Linked DNA regions of Homo sapiens: region 2 is linked to region 1. The links come from fine-mapping of genetic effects on gene expression. A gene starts in region 1. The other region holds a variant in brackets. All regions are shown on one strand. Distances are between the middles of the regions.

Region 1 (9,902 bases):
AACAGCTTAATGTTACCTTCTCAGTAAAGCTGGCAGACTTAGAAAAGGAAGGGAATTCGATAGAAGAGAACAGAGCTGCGGTGGAGAGGCACCTGAGGTAGAGCTGAGAGGATTTCTATGGCCAAAGCCACTGAACCCAGACTAGAGTTAGATTTGGCCGGGCAGTGGCTCACACCTGTCATCTCAGCACTTTAGGAGGCCAAGGCAGGAGAATGGATTGAGCTCAGGAGTTCGAGACCAGCCTTGGCAACACAGGAAGACCCTGTCTCTACGAAAATAAAAAAATTAGCCAGGTGTGGTGGCACATGCCTGTGGTCCCGGCTGTTTGGTAGGCTAAGGTGGGAGGATCACTTGGGCCTGGGTGGTTGAGGCTGCAGTGAGCTGTGATTGTGCCACTGCACTCCAGCCTGGGCAACAGAGTGAGACCCTGTCTCAAAAAAAAAAAAAAAAAAAAAAAAAAAAAGACTGCCCGATGGGTTCAAACCTAGCTCTGCCATTTGCTAGAAGGGTCATCTTGGACAAGGTAACTTAGCTCATCTGTGCAAAACTCTATCTCCATCATACAGGCTAAAAGAGGAAATGAGTGAATGCCAGCAAAAAACTCAGCCCAATGCCCAGCAAATATACAGTGTTGTCTCTGACCGTGACTTTGTTAGTAAGTGAGTAGCTGAGTTTCTGGGCTCTGTGTACCTACGGTGCTCACAGTGAGTCAGAAAAGGGCCTGGGATTGGAGATGGACAGCTCTGGGTCTTTGCTGGCTAGCCATGTGGCCTTGCCAGGTTAGCTGGTTCCTGAGTGGAGAGACGATCTCTGCTCTCATAGGAGTGCTCTGAGGGGTAAATAAGATTCTGTGAAATACAGTGAATGGAAGGGGGCTAAGTGCACAGTGGGGCTCATGAAGGTTGACTGACTTGAAGGGTACAACCCCACCCCGGACCTCGCCAGCACCAGAACATCTCTCACTCCTGGACTCTGAATGCAGAATCCCTCAGCAATCCGTCTCCTTTTCCTGTGGGCTGGCCTTCCCAGCTTGGCCTTCATGACTTAGCCCAGAGTCAACCATTTCACAGAACATTGGATAGCCTGAGCTGCAAGGAACCTCAGGATCATCCCAGCCAATCCTCTCTTTGTATGCTGGGGAAACTGAGGCCTACAAATGCTCTCGTGAGCTCCCTGGGAAATCTGGCACCTTCCACATTTGTTACAAAGCCTGAGTCAAAGCCAATGGCTTACCAGGCTGCCAGCTACTGGACAGAAACTCCCAGAAAGGGACTGACTGGCTCCACCATCTCTAGTCTGTGACCTCCCAGCTTAGGGCCCAGCTACTGCTTTGCAGTTTAACTCAGTGCCTCCTTGTCCCACCTCCTGCAGCAGGAGTTTCAAGCCCCCTCACATCCCTTTTTGCTGCAAAGGCCAACAGTGTGAGGTCCCTCATCCTTTCAAGGTTGCTCTGAGCCTCCCCTCTCTCGTGACTCTCCCCTCTCTGCCCTTCCACCTCTCCAAGACCATCCTCTGCCCATGCTCTCGATCCTTCCCTTTTCAACTCTTAACTTGTCCTTTTCCCATGCAGTGCCTGCGGCATCACACAGGGCTGCTCACCACCTGCTGCCATTACCTCTCCATGGCTACCTGGCCGCTGCCCTCTCCGGGGACTGCCTTTTCCTGTTGCTCCATCTCAATCTGTTGCTTCCTCTGCCTTTGCCTGTGGGCTCAGGGCAGGTGTTGCCTGCCATTGTGCCTGCAGCAACTTTCTCTCCATGGTCTATACTTTCCCACAGTGACCTCAGCCATGCACAACTCCAGTGAGCTCCAGGGAACAGACGATACCACACTTTCACCTGTAACCTGGAGCGCTCTCCTGAGTTCCAGGCTGACAGCTCCTTTGGACTATCCCACTGGCACCTCCCACTCTGCTCATCTCTTCCCATCTCAGTTCTTCAGCCTGGTTTCTTCCTGGTCACAGGGGCTTCAATTCTGATTCCCCAGCATCCCATCTGATTCTCCTCTGCACCTCTCTCTCACACAGGCCTGGTGCCTCTTTTCCAGGGACCTTAGCCTTATCCATGACTGCCTTGTCCCAGGCCCTCAGAATATCCAACCAGCTCAAGGCAATTCTCTCCTATTGGCTTCCTGCCCTGAAGCTCTCTTCCCTCTCATTAACCTTTCATGCTGTTCTCTTTTAACAACAGTGCCCGTACTTTATTCCTGCTATCAAAAACCTCAATGGTTTCCTCACTAACTACAGAATAAGGTGAAAATATCTTGGCCTGGTAGAAAAGGATTTCTATGATCTGGCCCCATTTTATTTCCCAAACTTAATCCTCTCTGTATACGAATTACCACCTCCACTGCCTCTAAATCTTGCTACACTTTGATCTCTTCCCCCAAACGTTACAACTTTCAGCTCCTTTGTCTTCTTCCAGGATGCCTTTCCTCAAGTCTCACACCGTCCTCCAAAGCACAATTCAAATGTTAACTCCTGTCATCCCCAAAGCATTCCCTCACTGTGAGATAACATTATTTTTATGCACTTGCTACAGCACTCACTAAACTGCTGATAATTTAATGTTCAGGAGATTGTCCTCCGCACCTCCTCCCCACCATCAGACTGTGAACCCATGGATGATGGGGCCTGATTTTTTCATGCCTGTCCTTAAGTCCTCAGCGTCTAACCTTGGGTTTATTTTTTGTTTAATTACAGTTCTGTCTTGTAATATTTGTTTCTGTAAGTTTTGTCTCTTTCACTAGATTATAAGCTCTTTTGAGGTGAGGGATCACATTTTACCAATCTTGCTAGCACCAAGCAGAGGACTTTGCAAACAAAACATAAATGATCTTCAACAAAAGTCTGCTGCATTGAATGAGCATCTGGGATGAGCCTAAACCCAAAGCAATAGACCGCCACCTAATATATCTGTATTACTCCCCCTGGGGAGGCAGGTAGCCAGCCCAGTGGGTAGCCCTGCCCTCTATTTTTGAAGTAAGATCTTTCCCTGTCCCAGACCTAAACTAATCCCAGGTCTTTGTCAGCTCAGTGGAGGGCTGCAGATGGTAAAGTTTACACGGATGCATAAGGCGTATAGTCTCATAGTCTTTCCAGAAAAGCACAAATATGACAAATATGCATGCAGGTGGTTCTTCTGTCTCAGCAAATTCCAGAGCCTGAGCCCCAGAGAGGACACTCCTTCAAGCTCCTGAACTGGTGCAGGGGCCTGCTGACAGAAAGATCCCCAGAGGCCCTGTGGCCCATCCTTTCTTGGCTGCCTGCTCCTGAGCCCGCAGCAGCATCAGTGTCAGGCAGAATTCTGACAGCTGGAGGATACCACCCCACCACAGAATATGAATTAATTCACAGGGAGGCTCCTCGAGCAGGTTACCTCAGGTGTCCTGGCAAATACAGCCCGAAACCCTCTCCAAGGGGAGGCAAACAGGCCAAAGATCAACCTGCAAGAGTCCGGAGGGAGGAAAGTTCAGCAGTCCAGGCTACCTCTTCCACCAGCGTTCCGCTTTCTCAATCTCATCAGGCGGGCAGGGCCGGTTAGGAGGCTGACTGCTGTTCCTCAATTTCATTTCTTTTCCTTCATAAACATTTACAGAGTCACAGAACATTTTACTTTCTAGCTGTGTCATCCTGGGCATCCCTTACCTCAGAGATTTTCCTCACCCATAGAATAAAGATAATGATCTTTGCTCTGCATCCCTGACTGGCAGGCTCAAGTGAGAAGGCACAGGTGAAGGAGCTTCCTAAACTGCAAAGCCCTATGGGTATTATTGCCAATCACATTATCTGCGCCAACCCTCTAATCTTCCCGAGGAGGAAACCCAAGCTCAGGAAGGTCACGTGGTAGCCGTCAGGATGAGACTGGGCCCTTCGGAGTGCCTGTTATTCCCAGACGGTTTACTGAGTGGTGATCACAAGCACCACCCGGTGTCTCTCTCCCCTCTAGCGTGGATTAAGAAAAACTCCTTGGAAAACTTAGGTTAAAGAAAAAAGAAAGGGTTCCCGGGTGAAGCGAGGTGATGAGTTGTAAAGCCAGCTTCACTCTTCCCTCCCTGGCTCAGGAGGCTCCTGTCCAGGGCAACTCAGCAGCCTCGGCGTCCACATGGCTGACCGCCGCTGGACTCTTGCGGGCGATGGAGGACTGGCGGTGGCTGAGGTCAGCACCTCCCACCAGGCCACCCGCTCCGAATCTCATCATCGGGAGGAGTGAGGGGCCCGGCTTCAGGACAGTCCGAGGCGGCGGACTGGGGTGGGTGCAAAGGCCGGCTTGCATTTTGGGAGAGTGGTCCCTGACCCTCAGCCCGAGAGGTGAGAGGGAGTGAAGATACGGAAGCGCCTTTCCCTGGCGCCCGAAGAACAGAAATGTCTCCCTGTCTAGCGCCCATTCTCTCCCTTAAAGGAGTTATGTTTATTTTCCTGAACTGTAATATTTCCCAGGCCGGCGACTGGCCTGGGCTACCGAACGGCCCCTTGGGAAAAGTAGTTCGAGTTCACTTCCAGGTAAGTTCCCTTCGTCCCGGCTGCCAGCGCGTTTCATTCTCGGAGACCTCAAACCCCAGCGGGCTCCGCCAGCACCCCGAAAGCTGAAGTCCCGGCCGCCCGAGTCTCCAGACGGCTCGCATCCCGCAGAGGAACAAGAGGGAAAAACTACGCCTCCCAGCAGCCACCGCGCGCCTCAGTGCGCAGGCGTAGCCGCGCCTCGCCACCCCTCCCCCTCCCCCAACTGCTCCCGTCGGTCCGTTCCCGTGTTCCCCCCATCAGTTCTAATGTCCCCAGTCTCTCCGGCACCTCACACTCACCGCGAACTCGCGGCGTCGGATACAGCCGCTGTGCCTTCTCCAGGAAGCGGAGCGCCCGGTCGGGCTGGTTGCTCTGGATGGCCTTGAGGGCGATGCTGATACAGCGCTCAGCTTCATCCTTGTTGGATTCCATGGCGGAACCAGAACGCGGAACCAGGGAGGGGGAGGCCGGGCGAGCGAAGGGCTGCGCCACCCGCCGGCGCGTCGCGGGCAGCCGGGCGCGGAGTGATGACATCCACCCTCCGCCCCTCCTTTCCCGAGTTTTGAGCGAGGGTGGAAGTGCTACCGTATGTCTTCTAAGAAAGGGACGGCTGGTGTAGGTGTCAATAATGGTGCACGCCCAGATTCCATGTTCCGGAGGTCTTAGAGTTGAGTATGCGCCAACCCTCTAATCTTCCGGAGGAGGAAACCCAAGCTCAGGAAGGTCACGTGGTAGCCGTCGGGATGAGACTGGGGCCTTCGGAGTGCCTGTTATTCCCAGACGGTTTACTAAGTGGTGATCTATATACGTAATGTAACTACATACGTTTCAGACAAAGGTTATTTATTCACTGAACAGATATTGAGTGCCCACTGTTTGTGAGGCATGGTTTTATGATGGGGATACAGGGGTGAGCAAAACAAAGCTCCTGCTCTCATGGAGCTTACATTCCAGTGTGTGTAGGCTGGGGGAGCTCCAGATAGATTCAGATAGTGATAAAAGCTCTGAAGAAAAATTATGGAAAACACAGGGATAGAGAGTGGGAGGCGCTATTTTAAATAGCGCGATAAAAGAAACCTCTCAGAAGCTGTCATTAACAGGTACCAGAATTCAGGAACGATAACAGGTAGATGTGACTGTCTGGAGGAAGGGTGGTCAGGCCGAAGGAACAGCAAGTGCAAAGGCTCTGAAAAGGGAATTCTCTTGGTGAGTTATAACAGATCAGGAAGGCGAATACATTCTAGGGAGCGTAAAGATTCTACTACAGGCTGGGCGCGGTGGCTCACGCCTGTAATCCCAGCACTTTGAGAGGCCGAGGCGGGCGGATCACTTGAGGTCAGGAGTTCGAGACCAGCCTGACCAACATGGAGAAACCCCGTCTCTACTAAAAATACAAAATTAGCCGGGCATGGTGGCACATGGCCTGTAATCCCACCTACTCGGGAGGCTGAGGCGGGAGAATCGCTTGAACCTGGGAGGTGGAGGTTGCGGTGAGCCAAGATCACACCATTGCACTCCAGCCTGGGCAACAAGAGTGAAACGCCATCTAAAAAAAAAGAAGAAAAAAAAAAGATTCTACTACAGAGTGTAATCCAGTTCTATCATTATCCCGTTCTTCGAGGGCTATCACTCCAGTGAAAGCAATCTTGTGAAGGTTGCCAGTGACCTCCACGTTGCCGAATCCCCGAGTCATCTGTCAGCCCTTACATTGCTTGGCCTTTCAGGCAGGATTTGGTAAGATGCTACTACAGTAATCCGGATGAGAGTCAGGAAGCTACTATTATAATACAGGTGAAAATTAATGGTAACTTGGATAAGGGTGATGGCGGAGGTGGTGAGTAGTAGTAAAATTCTGGATATATTTTGAAGACAGAATGACGCAATGGATGTGGGCTGTGAGAGAAAGAAGATTCAAGGATGATTCCAATGTTTTTGGCTTGATAACTGGAAGAAGAGAATTTCTATTTACTAAAACAAGGAAATGGAAAAGACTACAAAAGCAGTTTGGTGGGGGAATATTAAGGGTTTGATTCAGTTTATGATGCTTTTTAGAATCAAGCAGAGATACAGACTAGGATGTTGTACATACGTAGGGTTTAGGCAAAAAGGACCTGGAAATATAACTTTGGGGCCAGGCACAGTGGCTCACTCCTATAATCCCAACATTTTGGGAGGCCAGGGGTGGGAGGATCACTTGAGGCAAGGAGTTTGAGACCAGCCTGGGCAACAGAGTGAGATCCCATCACTACAAAAAAATAAAAAATTAGCTGGGTGTGGTAGTACACGCCTGTAGTCCCAGCTACTCAGGAGGCTGAGGTGGGAGGATCACTTGAGCATGGGAGGTCAAGGCTGCAGTGAGCTGTGATATATATATATATATATATATATATATATATATATATATATATATATATATATATATATATGCACCAAGGAAGTGAGTGTAGATGGAGAAGAGCAGAGAAGTCTGATTACTGAGCCTCACGAAATCCCAACATTTAAAGATCTGGAAGAGGAAGAAAATCCAGTAAAGGAGAATGTGAAGAAGCAGGTTGTAAGGAAATGAGTAGGTCAGGTATGGTGGCTCATGCCTGTAATCCCAGCACTTGGGGAGGCTGAGGTGGGAGGCTCGCTTTAGCCCAGGAGTTCAAGACCAGCCTGGGCAACATAATGAGACCGCCCCCCCTCACGGTCTCTACAAACAGTTTTTTTAGAAAAGGAGGGAGGGGGGGTCAAACGTCATATCCTGTGGAGAGGCCAAGCAATGTGAGGCCTGAGAAATGACCAATGGATTTGGCAGTGTAGAGGGCAGTGTTGACTTTGACAAAATTGCTTTTATCTATTTCATTTTATTTTTTTGAGACAGGGTCTCACTGTTACCCAGACTGGAGTGCAGTGGCACAGTTATGGCTCACTGCAGCCTCAACTTTCTGGGCTCAAGCAATCCTCCCACCTCCGCCTCCTGAATAGCTGGGACTACAGGAGTGCTCCACCACACCTGGCTAGTTTTTTTTTTAAGTTTTTTTTTAGAGATGGGGTCTCACTGTGTTGCCTAGGCTGGTCTCAAACTTCTAGGCTCAAGTGATCCTCTCACCTCAACCTCCCAAAGTGCTGGGATTACAGGTGTGAGCCACTGTGCCTGACCATAAAATGGCTTTTAGTGTGTGGTAGGGGTGAAAACCCAACAGGAATGGATTCAAGAGAGTAAAGGTGGCTGGGCGCAGTGGCTCAAACCTGTAATCTCAGCACTTTGGGAGGGTGAGGTGGGTGGATCACCTGAGGTCAGGAGTTCAAGACCAGCCTGGCCAACATGGTGAAACCCTATCTCTACTAAAAAAAATTACAAAAATTAGCCAGGTGTGGTGGCATGCGCCTGTACTCCCAGCTACCCAGGAGGATTATGAGCCTGGGAGGTCGAGGCTGCAGGGAGCCATGGTTGCCCCACTACACTCTAGCCTGGGCACAGAGTCAGACCCTGTCTCAATAAATAAATACACACATAAGAAAGAAGCAAGGTCATGGCCTCCTCAGCTATACATGCTCCTTGGAAAATTCTTTCACATCCAACCTTCCTTTCCATTCCCATTTTTCCCTTTCCAATGCAAACCCTTACGACTCCATGCTGGCCTGGTACAGACCCTCCTTGATAAGACAGTCCTACACTTGGAGAAATTTAAGTTCTCTACAAATTGATAGGTCCCTAATGTGTCCATGGATAAATGCTGGGATCCTTTTCAAACAGCCTCTCTGAGGTTTGTTGACCTAGCACGACAATTTCCATCTTCCTGTCTCCTGCTAAGAATCATGAAGTATCCTCTTCCATTTCCTATCATGAGGCCTGTCTTCTCCTGCTGACTACAAGATACAGTCATGTGTCACTTAATGACAGGGATATGTTCTGAGAAAAGTGTTGTTAGGTGATTTTATCACTGTGCGAACATCATAGAGTCCTTATACAAACCTAAGTTGGTATAGCCTGCTACACACCTAGGGTTTAAGGTATGACCTGTTGCTTCTAGGTTACATACCTGTACAGAACATTACCATACCGAATACAATGGGAAGTATTTGTGTATCTAAACATAGAAAAGGTAATGCATTGTGCTATGACCTTATGATGGCTATGAATGTCACTAGGCAATAGGACTTTTTCAGCTCCATTATAATCTTAAGGGACCATTGTCATATATGCTGTCTGTAGTTGGCCAAAATGTTATGATGTGGTGCATGACTCTACTTCACACTGTGAAGAAGGCAATCAAGTAGAAAAGAAAGTCTGTCATTTTCTTGTGTTAGGGAACTGGATTGTGACTGGCCAACTACTGACGGGTGAGCCCTTCTCTTTTCCTACAATTCATATAAAATGACAAAGTCCTATTTAAATTGTGGGTCAGTGCTTTGGCTTGATTGGCAGGGTCCAGATCAGTAACGATGTGGAGAAGCGGGCTGCTTGTGGTAGGGGCCCTTTATGCCTTATTTTTGCATTCTTCTCCTTGCCCCCCTCTGCTGCTCATCTTGGTCCCTAAGCTGTTTCTTTCTTTTTCTTTTTTTTTTTTTTTGAGACAAAGTCTTGCTCCATCGCCCAGGCTGGAGTGCAGTGGCGCGATCTTGGCTCACTGCAACCTCTGCCTCCCAGGTTCAAGCAATTCTCCTGTCTCAGCCTCCCGAGTAGCTGGGACTACAGCCACATGCCACCAAGCCTGGCTAATTTTTGTATTTTTAGTAGAGATGGGGTTTCACCTTGTTGGTCAGGCTGGTCTGGAACTCCTGACCTCAGGTGATCTGCCCGCCTCGGCCTCCCAAATTGCTGGGATTACAAGCATAAGCCACCGTGCCCGGCCACTGTTTCCTTTTGCTTTTTTTTTTTTTTTTTTTTTTGAGATGGATTCTCACTCTGTTGCCCAGACTGAAGTGCAGTGGCATGATCTCAGCTCACTGCAACCTCTGCCTCCCAGGTTCAAGCGATTCTCATGCCTCAGCCTCCTGAGTAGCTCAGATTATAGGCATGCATCTCCATGCCTGGATAATTTTTGTATTTTCACAAAATACAAAAAGTGGAGATTAACAAAATGCAAAAAGTAGGGGTTTTACCATGTTGGCCAGGCTGGTCTCGAACTCCTAACTTCCAGTAATATGCCCAGCTCAGCCTCCCAAAGTGCTGGGATTATAGGTGTGAGCCGCCACACAGGGCCTCCCTAAGCTGTTTGTTTTCAGAAAGGCTGTGCTGTTTCAGAAGGGATTATGAACTGACCCTGAAGGCTGGTCTAAGGAGCCCCTGCCTTTCTTACAAATCTGAGTCACACTGGATGTCTTGCTTTTGGTCCTGAGGCTAATTTGACTTTTTATTTGTCCCTCTCAGTCCAAAGGCCAGGAAAGAGAGACACCCCGCCTTGCTCAGGTC
Region 2 (9,902 bases), 20 kb before region 1:
AGCCGTGGGGTCCTAGAGAGCGCCTGCCCGCCTGCCCCTCTTCCTGCCTGAGCCCTGGACCTTTATTTCATGCCCAAGTGGCTGTGAGAGTGACAGGAGGTCCAGGCCCTGTCCCTAGGGAAATATCTCCTTACAAGGGTCTGGGGCGGGAGTGACAGTCCTGTCTGCCCTGTTACCCCCTCCACCACATGGCCTTCTCTCAGCTTATAGAGTTAGTTGCAGCCTCCCTAAGGGCAGGCAGGCCACCAAGAAAGGTTCAGAAATGCTTGCTGAGTGAATTGCTGAGTGGACAGGGTGCAGCCAGGAGTGGAGAAGCTCAGTGTCTCTCATTCATGCCTGGGAAAGTTCTCTGCCCAAGGCCACTGGGTGGGCCTGGCATGATGACAGGTACAGACTGGGGGCCTGGCCTGGGCATTGCTCCCAAATGCGCTCACTTCTGCACTCTCCGGCCTCCGGGCCTCTGCTCATGCTGGAGCACCCACTCCACCCCCACCCCAGTACTGCCTGTACCCACCTCCTTCACAAACGCCAGTTCCTCTATCAAGAGTCCCTGGCTAGAGCCTTCACAACTGCTCCGCTCCCAGGGTTTCTACTCAAGGGCAGTCCTCGTCTCAGTCACCTTGGAGCTTTCACTGCTTGGAATGGGACTTGACACCCAGTCATTGCTCAGCTAATCTTTGTCCACTAAGGACAAACAAGAAACACCCAAATGGCACTCGCCATGTACCAGGCACTGTTCTAAGTGCTTTATATGTGGTAACTTGTTTACTCCTCACAACCATCCTATGAGGTAGGTGTTTGTATCACTCCCATTTTGCAGATGAAGACACTGAGGCAAAGGGCAGTCAAATGACACAGGAAAGCAAAAACTGGCTCCCTCCACCCTTCTAGGGTCTTTGACTGTGCTAGGAATTACATGGACAGATAAAGTGGTTAACAGGAGAAAAATCATATTTAATTACGTACATAGGCATGGGAGCCCCACAAAATATGCAATTTCAAGAAAGATCACATCTTGAGCTACAGAAAAGGAACTGGGGTCCAGGATAACCTTTGTACCTTAAAAAAAAAACCAAAAAAAAAAAAAAAAAAAAAACGGGCTGGGAGCTTCTGGTGGGTGATGGCAATGCAAGTTTGGGAGGGTGAGGGGAGGAACTGCATGGTGAGCAAAAGTTGTCTCGTTATGCAGATAAAAAGTCAGTCTCGGCCAGGCATGGTGGCTCATGCCTGTAATCTCAGCACTTTGGGAGGCTGAGGTGGGCGGATCACGAGGTCAGGAGATCGAGACCATCCTGGCTAACACAGTGAAACCCTGTCTCTACTAAAAATACAAAAAAATTAGCCGGGCGTGGTGGCAGGCACCTGTAGTCCCAGCTACTCGGGAGGCTGAGGCAGGAGAATGGCGTGAACCCGGGAAGCGGAGCTTGCAGTGAGCCGAGATTGCGCCACTGCACTCCAGCCTGGGTGACAGAGCGAGATTCCATCTCAAAAAAAAAAAAAAAGTCAGTCTCTCAGGTCTTAACAGTTGTCTGAGCAGCCCCAAGAATAATAGGCAGTTGTTGTCAATGAGTCAATCCTCCTTGGTAGGTAAGATTTCCAGGAGGGAGTTCAGGACAACTTAGGCAGATGAGGCAACTTCAGAGAAAGCCCTTCCTGCACTTGCTGTTGCTCAAGTGCCCCCAGTTTGAAGTAATCAGCACACCAAAATGGCAGATTTTGGGGTGGCATTTCCTGAACTCCTTCAGGGACACCCAAGGTCACCCAGTCAGTAAATGGCAAAGATCCAGCCTCAGCCCCCGTGGGGGCTGCGAGGCTGCCTCCTGGGGATGACGTTTCCTGGTGCAGCCAGATGGATGCCCGTGTCACTGCCAGGAGACACCTACTGGAATGGGCAGCTGCTCCCTAGGCCAAGCCCATCAGATGAAGTGCCACCATCCTCAGTGTGGCCTTTTCATCCTTTTCCACCCTCCTGGACTCGGGTCTTCTGCCCACTCTACCTGACACCAGTGGGTTTGATTTCCCTGAGTGCAGCAAATTTGGGCTCAGCAACTGTTTGTAGAATGACCACTCTGCTACAAGGACCCCAGAGACAGGCACAGTTTCTTCAAGACCCTGGGCGCCACTTTCCTCCCCCAAGCCTGTTTCCTGCTCTGGGAAATGAGCTGACTTGCTCATGTCACATGGCGTGATGTCTGGTAGGGACGCTGGGTTGCTTCTGAACCATGTCAACAGTCTATTTACCTGATTCTTGGCATGGCTGTGTGCCTGCTCCAGACGCCAGGTGACTTTGTCTGGGCAATGTGGGGTGGGGATGAGGTTACAGGCAGGTCGGGTGTGTGCTCCTTGTCCCTGGAGCAGTTTTTTTTTCTCTGGACCTGGGAGCAGCAAGGGACAAGGCTATAAGCTAGTGGAGCCAGGGAGCTGGGATGCAGTGGCGCGTTCTGCCACCTGACAGTGGGTGGGGGACACTTGTCAAAGCCTTTTTTGCTGCAGTCAGAGCGTGCATCCCACCTCCTCTGGCTCACGGCCAAGCCACACAGGGAGGGCAGGGGGGATGAGGTGGGTGAATGGGGGTGCCTGCAACGCCTCTGCCAACCGCAGCTAACAAGTGGCGGCTTGCACACCAGGGCAGGCAGTGGTGACCCTGGGCAGGGGCAGCCAATGAGCTCCCGGGCCACGGTGGCACCACTGGGCAGCCCGCCTGTCTTTGGCTGGTGCAGCCGCGGGAGGGGCCTGGGTCCGCCAGTCAGGGCTGCCGGGCCCTGTCTCTGGGAGGCCTGGGCAGATCTGCCGCTCCATTCACAGGAGCCCGACCCGACTTGGGCTGCCACATTTTAAACTTTTTCAACCTCCTGGAGAGGAGGGCGGGCTGCGGGGGCGGTTTGGGGGAGGATGGTGGGAAGGACGATGGAAACAAACTCGCAACACTTTTCCCAGGATCTGGCTCCTGAGTGGGATCGAGCTCCAGGCTGGGGCCGGGAATTTCGAATGCTCTGCGGGCACATGGCAGGCCTGAGGGTGTGGGGGGGAGGGATTGGGAGAGGGAAAAGCAGAGGGTGATGGTCGTGGCCCAGATGCCCAGCCAGGACTGGCGCTGGGGACCCCAGGGACCCAGACTGCTCAGGTCCTGCAGCCCCCCAGTCACCTGAGCACCCCTCTGCCTGGATGGAGTTAGTTCTGGAACAGCATGTGTGGCTTAAGTGGCTGTTAGCCAGGGCCAGGGGTCGGGGGAAATTCAGGCTCATCATCTAGAGCTCCTTGTGGCACAGGCTGGACAGTGTCAGCAGCAGCAGGGGCTTGTGCCCCCTCCCCCCCACCCCTTAGGCCTCCCTGCTCAATGCAGACCCACCACGGCCAGTCACATAATAAACATATATTAACAGATGTACAATTTGAGAATTCTAATTCAAGAAATACAGCTTCCAGAGGATCCTTTAGGATCTATGTTCTTATTGCACATGGCTCAGCCCGTCTAGGGACATCTACCAAGACCAGATGGTCGGGGCGTGGGGGCAGAGCACCGGGGCCACAGTGGGTAGGCACTCTGGCCACATCAGTTCTTATAATCTCTCTGGGCTGAAGTGGCTGCTTCATTGCAGGGTTGGACCTTGTTTAAAAACCAGATTTGACATTTCCTTACCGAACTTCCTTTCCCAGCAAGAATCCTATTTGTTGGGGGACTTTTAAAAAAAGAGCCGAGAGAAACTCTGGGAGGGTGGTTATCACCTCCTGGCTGGCAGCTTGGGGAAGTAAGGCTTTGGAAGACGGCGGGCGCAATGACACACCCACCGCCACAGGAAAACATGGTCATTCCAGAAGGCCCAGGAGAAACTGTGGGAATAAATAAAACCTCCCTCCTCCCACTGGCGGCAAGTGCTGTTTTAAGCAAAATCCTCATTTCAATGTGAGGGTAAGAAAACTATTCTGGTTCAGGTGTATCCTTTGTCCAAGGTACGAGAGGAGGCCTGGCGGTCACATCAACAGCGAGTGAAGACAGAGGCAGCCACGGGCACTGCCTTTTCTTCAGGAGTCGAGGAGGCTGCCCTGGGGTCCCGGCAC[CACTG/C]ACTGACTCGGAGGAAGAACTTTCTGAAGTCCTTGGTGCATGACTTAGGAAAAACCAGTGGCAATGATGGAGCTGTGCCCTGTGGCACCTATAAGGCAAAGCCCACTGAGGGACTTAGGGGTGGGGAAATGGTTAGGTAGATCCTGGCCCCCTCTGCAGGCCTTCCCTTCTGTGGGCAGGGGGCTGGAGGGCTCCTGGGCACCAGGACAAAGAGCCCACCAGCGCTGCTGAGAGGGGAGAGGTGGTCTCACCCAAGCAGGTCCTTGTGGGGCCTCTACTGTGACTCAATACTGACCTGGCACCTGCCTCCATGGCCTGCTCCTCTCCAGGTTAACCATAATCCTGAGGCCTTCGCGGGTTCACACTATCATGATTACTGCTGCCATCAAAACCAGGCTGGGGTTTCGGGGGGCTGTGAAAAGCTCTGATGCGACTCTCCTTATGCTGTCAGCTACAGCTAATGTCTAGCAAAAACATCACCAGGGTACCTTCCCCAAACAGGCCTCATTTTCTAAAACATGGAAGAAATCAGCTCAACAACTTAACCAAATCCCTGCAGAGTTTAAAAAGTAGACTATATATATATATATCTTCATATATGCCTATTTACATATAAATAGATATATATACATATACACGCATCTATAAATTACATTCTATGGAGAGTTCTCTTTCTTCCTCCTATCTTTGGCCAGGGCCTCTGGCTTCTCCTGAGAGGTGGCTGGTGGTGGCTCCTGTGAGGGAGGAAAGGCAGCTGGGTGCCCCCTCCCCCAGCCCTTCCCACTGATATCTGCTGCGAGTTTTACATTCTACTTTCGTTGCCATGGTTTCTGTATCCTAGGAGAGAGGCGATGCGGAGCCTCCGCCAGCCCTGCGAGGGAGGGAAGCAGCCCCATGGCAGGTTTTCTGTCTGTCCTAAGAGCTTTCTGCATTTACTGGGTGAGAGAGAGGGCAGCTGTGCAGCGTTCGGCCTCCAATTCCATTTTAATTTTGTTTCTTTGTTTGTCTTTCCTCAAATATACAGTCCATCACCTTGGCTCAGTGCATGTCACCAAAAATTCTCCAGGGATTTCATAGTCTGGGGAGGAGAGTGGCAACAGTTAGCTCGGCATTCAGGCGGCACCGGCTCCTCTAGCTTATGCCACACAAGTAGCCCCCCTTGCCACTGCACCGCTGCACCGTGCTGCCCGCTCGACCCCCACCAACCCCACTTGCGGCCTGCCCTCCTGCGGCAGCACAGAGGCAGGCACAAATGGCCTCCAGGCAGAGTCAGCCATGGATCCAGGCCGGGAGGACACAGGCAAAGGAGGGGGTGGGCAGGGCACCCACACAGAGAAGAACCTTCACTGCTTCTGCCCACACTTCTCTGGGCTTGGCTGAAGTGGCCACCTCTGGCAAACGCTGGGAACAGAGCCCAGCGCCCCCATTCGCCGGGCTGCAGAAGGAGGGAGCCTGCTACCAGCAACTCTCATTTCCCCTCCACCCCTCCTGTGCTGAGCGGCTGCGTCTGACCCTGAACTCATGACCTTCTGTTCCCTTCCTCAGACCGCAGGCGAGATGCCTGGGCAAGGCCGGATGCCTGTGGCTTCCAGGCTGCCAGGTGTGACGGCATTCGAGAGAGTGCCTCAGATCCCACCAGAGGGGGGTGGTCAGGGCCCGCGGCCCCTGCCGCCACCAAGACTGCCAGCTCCCACCCACCTCGTGGCTGCCTGTTCATCTTGCTCCATTTCCTCCTAGCTGGAGGGATGGAGAAAGGGGAGGGCTCTTGGCCCACCTATTCCCACATGGTTCTTCCTGGTATCAGGCAGGCAGTGTGCATATGGGGCTCTCTTGGGCCCCACCATATGTGATGGCCTAAATACCAGGGCACGGACAATAGTCTGCTGTGCTGGAGAAAGGGCCGTGCTGACTGATGGCTGGAGTGGACCAAGAAGCCCCGGGTGGCCCTCAGCAACAGTTTCAAGTTCCCACTCTGCCTGGTTCTGGGGTCCCCCACACCCCTGGAGCCAGGGAGCAGAGCGGAGGAGTGGGGAGGACAGCATCGCTAGAGGGCGGAAACCGACCTTGGTTTCCCAGCAGGCCCCACAGCTGCTCGGTCTCTGGAGGCTGGAGGTCAGGCTGGGGACAGGAGTCTTTGCCACAATCACCAGGCTTCCTCCCTTTCTCCCCCTCCCTCCTCTGCTCATGACCAGGGCCAAAGCTGCCAGGAGTTGCAGGGTGGAGGCAGCCCTGGCTCATACTTGGACCTCGGTGGTGTGGCTGGCCCAGGACTATCCATGCAGGGAGGCCTGCACCTCTGACAGTCGGCTGCAGCTGGGGGTGCCCATCTTCTGTGCTCTGTGGTACATATCTGTGTCGCCAAAGTAGCGTGCCCGGTACAGCAAGCCTTCCTCTGCAAAGCAATGGGACAGGGTTAGTGCACACCCAGTACCTCCCGAAGCCTGCAAGGAAGCCTGCGAGGGCTGTGGAGGGCGGAGGAAAGCTGGTACATGCCCGGGGCTTGGGCAGGGCTGGCCTCCCATTAGGAAGACCATGGAGGAGCAGAGACTACAGTCCTTATGTGGGCGAGGGTGACAGAGGCGCCTTTCTCTAGAATGCAGTGAGGCCAGCCAAGGTGAGACCCTGTCATCCTGGTCAGGCCTCCCCAGGGTCCCACAGACAGATCCAGGAGCACAGTCAGGGGGTGGCCAGGGATCCATCCGCTCCAGTCCATCTCTACACACTCACCTCTGGCAGCCAACATGCTGGGCTGATGGCAGTGATTTACGGGAACCTGAGGAAACTACCAGGTGGCCCCTGGCTCCCAGCCCCGGAGAAACACAGGAGTGGAGACCAGCTCTTGTCTGGGAGGTGGCTGGTGCAGGGCAGTGCCAGGGGCTGGGCCCTCAGAGCACAGGGTGAGCAGGGCTCTCTCCTTCCCCTGCTTTCCAGCTTCATCCCAAGCCACCTCCCAAATACAGCCCCCGCCTTCCCCCCACACTCACTCTGCTGCTTCTCCTTCCAGCAGTTGTTCCGGAGGTTGGCGATATAATCATCTTCCACATTCCGCTCGACTGTTTTGAGGCTGGAGCCTGTGTACTCTTCGGAGAAAGTGTCTCCCACATAGTAGACGACACCCAGGTGGTCAGTGACTCGCCTGTGGATGTGGCCCACGGACCTGGCCAGAAATACCAGGTTCAAAGTGGGTGCGGGTCCCCATGCCCAGGGCACTCTAGGGGTATGGGCCCCAAGACAGGAGGTGCCGCACAGACCAGAGGAGTAGTTGGTTCCCTCTCAAACCAGAGCAGGGACCCGCACACTCCCTGAAAGGAGAGTCTGAGGAAAAGGCAGCGTCCTCCCACACACGTGGCCCAGACCGCAGGACGCCCTGCCTTTAGATCCCTGCTTACCACACTGCTGACCTGGGGCCTTTGGGGAGAGGCCTGGTCTAGGGAACTGGAGACCTGAGAGGGAATCTGGGCTCTGCCTCTGTGCCTCCATCTCCCCATTCATCCCCTAAGCCAATTGTTGCTGAGTGCTTGCCTGCCTATCTAGGAGTTCCCAGTGTAGGGTTAAGAGGCTTAGGAACAAAATGACAGGAAGGGCTCCAGGGAGCCTTATCCTCCCAGCTCCAATCACAGGCTCTGTCAGCTGTGGGAAGAGCCTTGACACCCAGACAGGACCAGTGCTCTGGGGACAACAGTCCCTGCCCTAGTCCTCTGCTCCTCACATCTCTCCAGTTGCAGGGAAAAGGGCTGGCATCTGGCCACAGGGAGCCTGAGCCGGCGGCCAGGGTCCAGTGGACCGACTCTGCCCCCTGCTGGCTGAGAAGGGTCCTGCCAGCTCCCAGCCAGAGGTGGCCACCTTTTGGGAGAGGGGGACCCACCCCACTGAAGATGTGCACCCACTGTGTAGCTGACCCTGGGCCAGGTGCTGGACATCAGTGAGGGGAGCTGACCCCCTAACGGCTCATGAAATGTCCTCAAGTTCACTCCTGGCAGTCGAGACTAAGCATTCATTAAACTAATATTGTTGAGCATTTCTAGTGGGCCAGACATTTTATATGCATTACTCATTAATTTCCACAGCAGGTGGATGTTATAATTCCCATTTTATAGATGAGGAAACCAAGGTTATATAACTTGTTTAGGGTCACACAGCTTCTTAGTGGAGAAGCTGGGATTCTAAGCCATGCTTGCTCTGTCTGACTCTAGTGCCCTGTTCTTTCCACAGCCTCAGGAAGCCCAACCAGAGCCGAGGAGCAGAGGTTCTTCGTCAGGGTTGGCAGGGGAGATGGGCAGGGAAGAGTCACAAAGCCGCCGAAATTATATGCAAAACTCTGTGTGTATATGTGTGCGTGTATGTGTGCATGTGTATTATGTGTGTGCATGTATTGTGTGTGTGTGTACATGTGTATCGTGTGTGTGTATGTGTGTGTGCACATGTGTGCATAGTTTTAGGGAAAAGTTCTGTAGCTCTCGCTGCAATTTCTTAGGGGACCATAATCCTAAAAAGCTTAAGAGTCCTAGTTGAATAGAGAAAGTATATTTTCTTGATTCGAAGCCAGGTTTCTGCATTATGATCGCACACTGGCTGGATCAGGATGGGAAAGAAGGCCCCTGATGGGGCTGAGAATTTAAAGCCCCTTGTCTGCCCATGGCCCGGCCTCACCCATGTACTCACGGTCTTGGACTCAGACTGTAGGGTGGACTGGAGACCATGAGCTGGCTGAGAGCTGACACGAGAATCAGGATGAGGATAGGCATCAGCTGCACAAACACCCCTAGCCCGCCCTGGAGGGAAGAGCCAATGTCACTCTGCTGGACCTGGGTGGGGTGTGGTGTCAGCCATAATCACCACTAGCTCCCCTAGAATAGTGGAGCCTGGGGAGACATGACACCACTCTGCCGTTCCCTCCACGAGGCTCCAAAACACAGACGCTCCTTCACCTGCCAGCTTTCCCAGATAAAAACAAAGCAGCAACTGGTGTGAAATACAGGAGGAAGTGAGGTGTCTGCATTTACTTTTGACAGAATGCCAAAAAAAAAAAAAAATCAGCAAAAGTTGCTTCCTCCAGGAGAATGGAAGGCAGGGCTGGAAGGAGACATGCAGTATATACAAGTTTTTGAGATGTGAACCACACAAATATATTACCAATTTAAACATTATGGCCAGTGTGGCGGCTCATGCCTGTAATCCCAACACTTTGGGAGACCAACATGAGAGGAACACGTGAGGCCAGGAGTTCAAGACCAGTCTGGCCAACATACACCCCCATCTCTACAAAAAATAATAATTAAAACAAAATAAAAATTAGAAATAGCACTGGTTCTAGGGTGCAGAAAAAGCAAACAAACAAAAAAAGAAGAATTAGAAATAAAAATTAACAAATATATTCACTGTGTGATAATCTGTGATGTTAAACTCTTCTGTTGTTAGATACAAAATAAAAAAATTTTGATCAGGGGCAATGGCTCATGCCTGTAATCCCAGCACTGTGGGAGGCTGAGGCAGGAGGACCACTTGAGCCCAAGAGTTTGAGACCAGCCTGTGCTCAAACAGCAAAGTAAGACCCTATCTCTACAAAAAATACAAAAAATTAGCTGGGTGTGGTGGTGTGGGCCTGTGGTCCCAGCTACTGGGGAGCCTGAGGTGGGAGCTTTGCCTGGGAGGGGAGGCTCCTGCACTCTAGCCAGGGTGACAGAACGAGACCCTGTCTCAAAAAAAAAAAAAAAAGGCCGGCATGGTGGCTCACGCCTGTAATCCCAGCACTTTGGGAGGAAGGGGCAGGCAGATCACGAGGTCAGGAGTTCGAGACCAGCCTGGCCAACATGGTGAAACCCCGTCTCTACTAAAAATA

Evidence for each region. PIP is the estimated chance that this variant, and not a neighbour inherited with it, causes the effect.
Region 2: its variant is fine-mapped to the expression of DNAJB12 in whole blood (TOPMed, PIP above 0.99).

The regions. Positions count from the first base shown.
Region 1 is chr10:72,349,965-72,359,866 of GRCh38, forward strand. It overlaps DNAJB12 (DnaJ heat shock protein family (Hsp40) member B12), which reads right to left and starts at 4,955. Exons shown (of 9, transcript NM_017626.7): 1 at 4,801-4,955. The coding sequence starts at 4,933. RefSeq lists enhancers at 4,412-4,541, 4,932-5,181.
Region 2 is chr10:72,329,477-72,339,378 of GRCh38, forward strand. DNAJB12 (DnaJ heat shock protein family (Hsp40) member B12) reads right to left here. Exons shown (of 9, transcript NM_017626.7): 6 at 8,726-8,835; 7 at 7,048-7,220; 8 at 6,304-6,455; 9 at 3,387-5,141. The coding sequence ends at 6,334. Among named protein-coding and RNA genes, the nearest start is that of DNAJB12, 20 kb to the right of the region's middle. RefSeq lists a silencer at 2,585-2,834 and enhancers at 5,341-5,750, 6,311-6,430. The variant CACTG/C (reference allele first, on the strand shown) is at 4,060.